Linked DNA regions of Homo sapiens. The protein of the gene in region 1 purifies or fractionates together with the protein of each later gene. This does not show direct contact. Each region holds a gene or a part of one and is shown on either strand. Other genes may lie near its edges.

What was found. The genes of interacting proteins can lie anywhere in the genome.
Region 2: the proteins of CAPZB (region 1) and TNKS1BP1 purify together in Homo sapiens (co-immunoprecipitation; 5 studies listed by BioGRID and IntAct, with this or other methods). This does not show direct contact.

What each region holds. Positions count from the first base shown.
Region 1 is NC_000001.11:19,484,126-19,487,725, forward strand, and holds the start of CAPZB (F-actin-capping protein subunit beta), read right to left. Parts: upstream 1,415-3,600; 5' UTR 1,314-1,414; coding exon 1,311-1,313; intron 531-1,310; exon of another isoform or gene 395-530; intron 171-394; exon of another isoform or gene 155-170; coding exon of another isoform or gene 65-154; intron 1-64. UniProt on the Homo sapiens protein: F-actin-capping proteins bind in a Ca(2+)-independent manner to the fast growing ends of actin filaments (barbed end) thereby blocking the exchange of subunits at these ends.
Region 2 is NC_000011.10:57,311,301-57,315,119, forward strand, and holds part of TNKS1BP1 (182 kDa tankyrase-1-binding protein), read right to left. Parts: intron 2,590-3,819; coding exon 1,234-2,589; intron 219-1,233; exon of another isoform or gene 64-218; coding exon of another isoform or gene 1-63.

The sequences.
Region 1 (3,600 bases):
TGCCTTCTTTACCAAAACAAACACCACGAGCGGAGCCAGCACTCTCCCTAGGCGTTCTGCTCACCTGATCCGAGGGACTTCCATAATCAGCAGTTCCAACCCTTGCAAGCTGACAGTTCAGAGGGAAGGGGAGGCTGCGCCTGCTTGGGTGCATCGTGTCCAGGCCATATGCTGGATCCAGGGCCTGGTGGCCCCCCAAGGCCACGGCCTCACAAGGGCGATTGTGCGTTCATCCTTGTCCTGTGGGCCACCCATCCTCGCCCCTCGGCTCCCACTCAGGCCCGGGCGCCGTGGACCCCGGCCTGCCCTGCAGAATGCTTCGCACGCACAGCACCCACGGCGGCAGCCTCGAGAAGGGCCCGCAGAGCAGCGCGCTGCCTTCTGGGCACACCGATGCCCGCCCTTCCCTCGCTGGCTCCTAGGCGGCCTCCCTAGAAGCGGCAACTGAGAAGGCACAGCACCGGGACCACCCCATCCCTGATGGAGAGCTCCCCTCGCTCCCCAAAGGCTGCAAAGAAGGCGCGCCCCAGGTACAGGGAAGGGGACCCTGGGTCGTGCACCAGGCAGGGGGCAGGACCCTGATGAGAGGCTCAGGGCGGGGACCGAGCGGGGCTGACGCAGGTTACGCTAGGAGTGGCGAAAAGTCCAGGGAAGGGGATCATGGTGGGGAGGGGGCAGTGAGGTCCAGACGGGGGCCATGGGCGGAGAAGAGGAGGTCCAGATTTAAGTTCACAGAGAGAAGAGGAGATTCAGGCTGAGGCCACGGAGAAGAGGGGAAGCAAACCTAGGCCGCTGCAGAAGGGGCTGACCGGGGTCCAGCCTGAGGCCATGGAGAAGGCAAAGGGGGAGGGACAGAGGGAGGCAGCGGCCTAGCCTGGGCCATGGCAGGGAGAAACGACGGCCTAGCCTGGGCCGGAGAGACGGGGGAAAGCAGACCTAGCCCTAGACCGGGGGAGGAAGGGGGCCCACGCCAGGGTCACCGAGGGGGTGCCTGGCTGGGGACACGGTTCGGGAGGGAGGGTCTAGCCTGGGCTATGGGAGAGACCAGCCTGAACACAGAGGTAGTGAGTGGGACTCCAGCTTGCGCCAAGGGCGGGGGCTGGGAGCGGGGGCAGGGTCACTGCCACCCAAGTCGTCCGCGCCGGCGGCACCCTCCTGGGCGGGGAGGGACCGGGTCCACCCAGGGTCCGGGACCCCGCCCCTCCCCCACCCCGGGAAGCCACCCGTCCCAGGCCAGGGATGGGCAGGGGGAGGGGGACGCGAGCTCCGGAGGGGCCCCCGGGCCGGGGAGGGGGCCGTGCGGCCTTTACCATGGTGGCGGCGGCGGCGGCGGTCCCGGTCCCGGCGTCAGTGGCTCTCCCCCCCGCAGCAGGGCCCGGCGCTTCCACTTCCCCGGGTGCCCAGGAGTGAACATCCGGGTCAGCACCCCCCTCCCCCCGCGCCGGGCCGCCGCCACCTTCCTTCCCCGCCCCGGCCCGGCCCGGGCCCGCCCCCCACGCCGCCAGCTCGCGGCCAATGAGCGCGCGGGGCTGCGGCGATCGCCAAGTATGGAGAGCGGCGCGAGAGGCGGGCGCCGACGGGGTGCGGGGGCGGGGCCTGCGAGGCGGGGCGGGGCGCGGCGCTGCGCGGCGCGGCTGCCGGGAGTCCCCGGCACGGGTTGCGGGCCGGGGCGGAAAGGTCTCCTGGCTGTCTGAGGTCCAGTCCCCGACTCTGGGCCTGCAGCAGCGAGTGGCGGCGAGGGAACCGCACCCCACAGTCCCCGCGGGCGGGGATGCGGAAGGCACCGCGGCTGGGAGGGGACCGGCCCTCCGCGCCCCACCCCGTGCACGCGCTCACTCCTGCGGCGCACCCGGAACTGCCGCCGAGCGCGGACCGGCCCGGCCCAGCCCAACCCAGCCCAACCCAGCACTGGGGGAGCGCGCCGGGAGCGGGGCAGGAGCCCAGCGCTGCCGCTCGCTACGGCAGGATCTGGAGCGCCGCGCTGCACCTGAGCCCGGGCACGAATTGAGGAGCCTCGGGCTGACGCCATTTATTCAGCACCTACTATGTGCCAGGCCTTGTTTAGGCACCGGAAGATAACAGATAAGACATAAAGATCCCTGCCGGTATAGCTGCAGACAGAATATCTGTGAGGATGACACAGGTAGAGATTAGAAAATTAAGTTCAACAGGTCGGCCGCGGTGGCTCACGCCTGTAATCCCAGCACTTTGGAAGGCCGAGGCGGGCCAAGGTCAAGAGATCGAGACCATCCTGGCCAACATGGTGAAACCCCGTTTCTACTAAAAATACAAAAATTAGCTGGGCGTGGTGGTTCGCTCCTATAGTCCCAGCTACTCGGGAGGCTGAGGCAGGAGAATCGTTTGAACCCGGGGGCAGAGGTTGCAGTGAGCCAAGATCGCGCCACTGCACCCCAGCCTGGCGACAGAGCAAGACTCTGTCTCAAAAGAAAAAAAATTAAGTTCAACAAATGCTAGCTGTTATGAGTACTGTTGAATGTGCTACAGAGAACCATTCCATTAGCCCAGAAGGGCTTCCTCGCTCCACAAAGTGACTCAAGTTTCTCTCTCCCAATCTCTCTCTCTCTCTCTCAATCAAATATTTGTTAAGCTTAGTCTAGGTAGCAGGAGAGATCTGGATTGCTAACAATATCTGCCTCCGTGGCCTGTTTGCTTTGGTTAAATCAAATTAGGCGATCTGTGAGGGGATGGTAAACTGCACAGATGACAGGAATTGTTTCCCTGAGCCAGGCCCTGTCCTCAGGGAGCTCATAGACAAGTCGAAGCTTTCACAGGTAGCCACTGGCAGAAAAAGCATACGGGTAAGTCTCGCAAGAATGGTATTGGATGAGTATTACAGAAATTCAAGGAAGAGAATGGCACACGCAGTAGATACTTATTGAGCATCTGCTATGTGCCAAGCACTGTGCTAGGCTCTGGAAATAGAGCAATGAGCAAAATAACCCACATGGTTGTGGAGCTTGAGTGTTGTCAGGGAGACAGTCGGCCACCAGGCAAATACAGTGTCCAAGGCCAGGCACAGTGGCTCACGCCTGTAATCTCAGCACTTTGGGAGGCCGAGGTGGGCAATCGCTTGAAGTCAGGAGTTCCAGATCAGCCTGGCTAACATGGCGAAACCCCGTCTACTAAAAATACACAAAGTTAGCCGAGGCCGGGCGCAGTGGCTCACGCCTGTAATCCTAGCACTTTGGGAGGCCGAGGTGGGCGGATCACGGGGTCAGGAGATCGAGACCATCTTGGCTAACACGGTGAAACTCCGTCTCTACTAAAAATAAAAAAATTAGCTGGGCGGGATGACGGGCGCCTGTAGTCCCAGCTACTCGGGAGGCTGAGGCAGGAGAATGGCGTGAACCCGGGAGGCGGAGCTTGCAGTGAGCCGAGATCGCGCCACTGCACTCCAGCCTGGGCGACAGAGAGAGACTTCGTCTCAAAAATAAAATAGTAATAATAATAATACAGTGTCGGGTAGTGATTAGAGATAATGAGAAAAATTCAAGCAAACAGGTAGGCAGGCAAGGCCTAACTTAGCAATATTTGATCATATAGCTGAAGGGAAGGAGGGAGCAAGCCGTGTGGATAGCA
Region 2 (3,819 bases), on another chromosome or scaffold:
AGCGTTGGCCAGCAGCCGCTCCAGGATAGACATGCTGGCCTCCCCATCCCCAGGCTGGGCCATGGCCCCCCGCCCCCAACCCGCCTTGGGGCTGCTGGGTGCGGCCAGCCGGGCGCAGGGATAGAGCTGGGCTGCTACCCGCGCTGGGACCTGTCCGACGGCTCTGGCGCTGGCTCTCCCTCACCCTGGCCCTGCTCCCTCCGGAGCAGCTGCAGCTTGGGCAGCCCCGCCCAGGAGCCAGTTGAGTCACCCACATCCCGGGACAGACACACCTACTACAGGAGTCAGCTTAACCCCTTCCTGCTCCTCCTTCTCCCCGCCCCGCAGCCCCCAGAGGCCCCCTGGCTCCTCCTTTCCTGCAGCCCCGCCCCTTGCAGCCCAGGCCCGGCTTGAGAAATAAATTTCGAAAGCCACCTGGCCCCCGGCCCTTAAATTCAGAGGCAGCCTGGTAGGAGAAAGGGCACTGGGCCGGGAAACGGCGCTGGCCCGGGCCCAGCCACCAACTTGCTGGATAACTGCACAAGGCTAACCTCCTCTGAGGCCCAGCTGCCTGTCTACAAAGCAGGTCTGGAGCTCAATGTTAATAACGTTTGTAAAAGCCAACACTTCTTAAGCACTTAGGATGAGCCAGGCACTATTCTTAGCACTTTAGACATTACAGCTCATTGAACCCTTGCCAACACCCTTGGAGGTAGAACTCATCTTGTTATCCACATTTTACAGATGTGGAAACTGAGGCAGAGGGCAGAAAAGTCACTCTTTTAAGGTCACACCTGGGCAAAGGAAAGCAGAGCCAGGAGATGAACCCAGGAGCCCACGCTCTAAATGGCTACACTATTTTGCCTTGAACGATATTCCCATAATGAGAGACTGAATACTCAGCACCTGCCACGCACTGTGCCGAGAGCTTTCCACCTCGATTTACCCACAATATAACTCTAAGAGGCCAATGCTACTATCAGGAAAGCACTCTGAAGCCCAGCAGTTAAGGTACGTTCTTCCCAAGACCAATCAGCTAGCGATTGCTGGAGCTGGGATAGAGCCTCACACGAAACCCCACACACACACCGTCCTGTGTGGCTCTGCAGAGCTACAATCTGCAGGTCCACAGCTGCCTTGCTCACTACCACAGCCCAAGCTCTCGACATGTAAAATCCATGTTCAAAGAATGAAGCCCACCCAAGCCCTGGCCTCTGTCCCCAGAAGTCCCATTCTCCCTATGCCCATTCTCACCTCAGAGCAGGTACTTGGGGACTGTGTGTCCTTCAGCTCAGCTCCAGCTCCCCGCCTTGCACCGCCACCACTGGGTGGTGGTGAAGCCAGGAGGTCGTCCAGCCAGCGGGAGCTGCTTTCAGGGCCTGGAGGCTCGGGGGATGCCCTACACAAGTCTTGAGCCTCTGTCCTGGCTTGGGTGGTCTCAGCCCGGGCTAGGGTCACGGCCTCCTCCTCAACAGGCAGTGCCTGTCCAGGCTCAGGGGCATCAGCAAAGAGAACACAGGGCTGGTCAGGGGCTGCTGGCTGCTCCTGCCCCAGGACTGGCTCCAGGATGGGCAAGGCTGCCTCCCTGGTAGCCAGGGGGAGAGGGGACTCCTGTCCAGCCAAGGGCTCCTGCGACTCGTATCTCTCCTCTGCCTGCTGCAAAGGTAATCCAGGTGTGCCCTCAGTTGTAGGCAGGGGCTCAAGGGGAACAGCTGGGAATTGAGGTTGACTCTCCCCATCGCCCTTCTGGGTGAGGGACATGCTTGGATCATCCCCCTGCACCCAGGAACTTCCTGACCCACTTGGAGCTGACCCAGCCCCTTGCCCCTGCTGAGACACTCCTTCTTCCCTGCTGGAAACGGCCAAGTTGCCAGCCTCAGCAGCCTCGGCGGCCTCACTGGCTTCAGTGATGGGGGAGGGAGGCGGGGAGTCCAGCCGCCACACGCCCAGACCCGAGGGCCTCGTGGGGAAGGTCCATTCGAAGGACTGTGATAAGCTCCAGTTGGACTCTGCCCCAAAGGGACGATCCAGGGCCAACTGGCTCCCCTGGCCTTGGGGCAGGGCAGCCAGCGAGCCCCCCAGCTTCTCCTGGTCCTGACTGGGTGACTGGAGCACACCTTCAGAGAATCGGCGCTGAACCAGGCTGGTGGGGCGGAGGTGTGCGTCACCCTTGGCCTCCTCCTCCCCGCCAGATGGAAACGTCCGAGTGAGATCCAGCAACTCACCCACCTCGATCAGGGGCCGGGGTGAGGTGGCAGGGGGCTGATCCAGGCTATGGGGCTCCAAGACCTCAGGGGGTGGGCTGCTGGGTCTGGGGGCCTCTGGAGCCCCCTCGGCAGGGAGCCCCGGGCTGGGGGTGTGGCGGGAGCCCTCGTCAGGCAGGGCTGCACTTGGAGCTGATGGAGTCACAGCGGGGCAGGGAGAAGCCTGGGAAGCTTCAGGAGTCTGGGCTTCCAGAAGCTGTGAGTGGCAGGGAGAACTCTTATCAGGCGGGTGAAGATGGGGAGAGCCAGGGCCTGAGCCTGAGGCTTCTGCGGGGAGGCCTGGGCTGGCAGGGCCTCCATTCTCTGAGGAGGGGGCTGGACTTGAGGGAATCCAGGGCTTGGAAATCTGCAAGAGAAAGAAAGGTCAAGATCCGTCACTCACCTCTCAGCGGGGCGGGGAGGGTCCCCTCCGACCCCACACAGACCCCAGGTCAGCTTCTCCCAGGCTGGGAGGAGGCAACTGGAACCCGAGGGGGTCCTCTTGGGATAGCTGGGAGGGGCCCCACAGACGACTCAAGGCAGGACTTCTCACAGAGCCCCCTTTAGACCTTCTTCCCCAGAATGCGCCTATCCTTATTCACAAAGCATAATTCCTTTCGTCTCAGGTGGTTGGAACCCCTCACCCACTCAACCCAAAGCTCATGTGAGGATCTCCTCAGAGGCCACAGTTCGGGGTCCATAACACCTGCTTTATAAAGGGAAAAGGAACATTGTGAATCTGGCTCTTGAAGCACCTCAGCATGTGGGAGTCGTGAGGGGAGAGAGGGTTTCGCGTCCAAGCAGGATTCGAGGTGCAGTGCAGCTACAGAGCAGCTCGGGGGAGTGGCTACAGCGTGCAGGGGGTGCCCCTCATGGCACAGAAGGTGCCAAGGAAGCAGGAAGGCTATGGGACCCAGGCAAAAGGCACTGGGGGGTGTGACAGCGCCTGGCTTGAGCCGTCCCAGCACTGCCTCTTACCAGCATGTGCCCTCCCTCACATATGGCAGACACTTGGTCTCTCTGAGCCTCAGCTTCCCCATCTGTACATTAGGGCTGGTGGCAACAATGCTCATCTCCCAGTTAGGTGAGGGTGAAGGGAAATGTGTGCACTGGCCCCTCGGCATAGGACTCATGGGATGATGGCGGCAGAGAGTGGGGAGGACGTGGAGAGAAGAGGGGGACAAACAAGGCACCAAGCACCTGGCACTCCACCTGTCCCCAGACAATGAAGTGACTCTGGCTCCATCTGACCTTTGCCCTCTGCAGAGGTCACACTTCCCTGGCCGCCCTCTCCCATGTCGTTAATTCTCCCACATCATCACCTACTAGGCCTGGGCAAAATAAAGGGTCCTGCTTGCTTCTCAAGGTCCCTTCTGTTCCCTCCATGCTCACTCCCCTCTGCAACGTTCTAATGTCAAAGCTCGTGCCCTTAAACTACAGCACCCACAATTCTTTCTTGTTATTGACCCTTACGCACCCATCATTCCTTGAAAACCATAACCGCTGCATCACTGCAACCCTCTCCATCATTGTTGTGATAGCTTACAGTCATCTCCATAGCCAGATGCGACCCTTCCAGCCTCTGGTTCGTTGACCT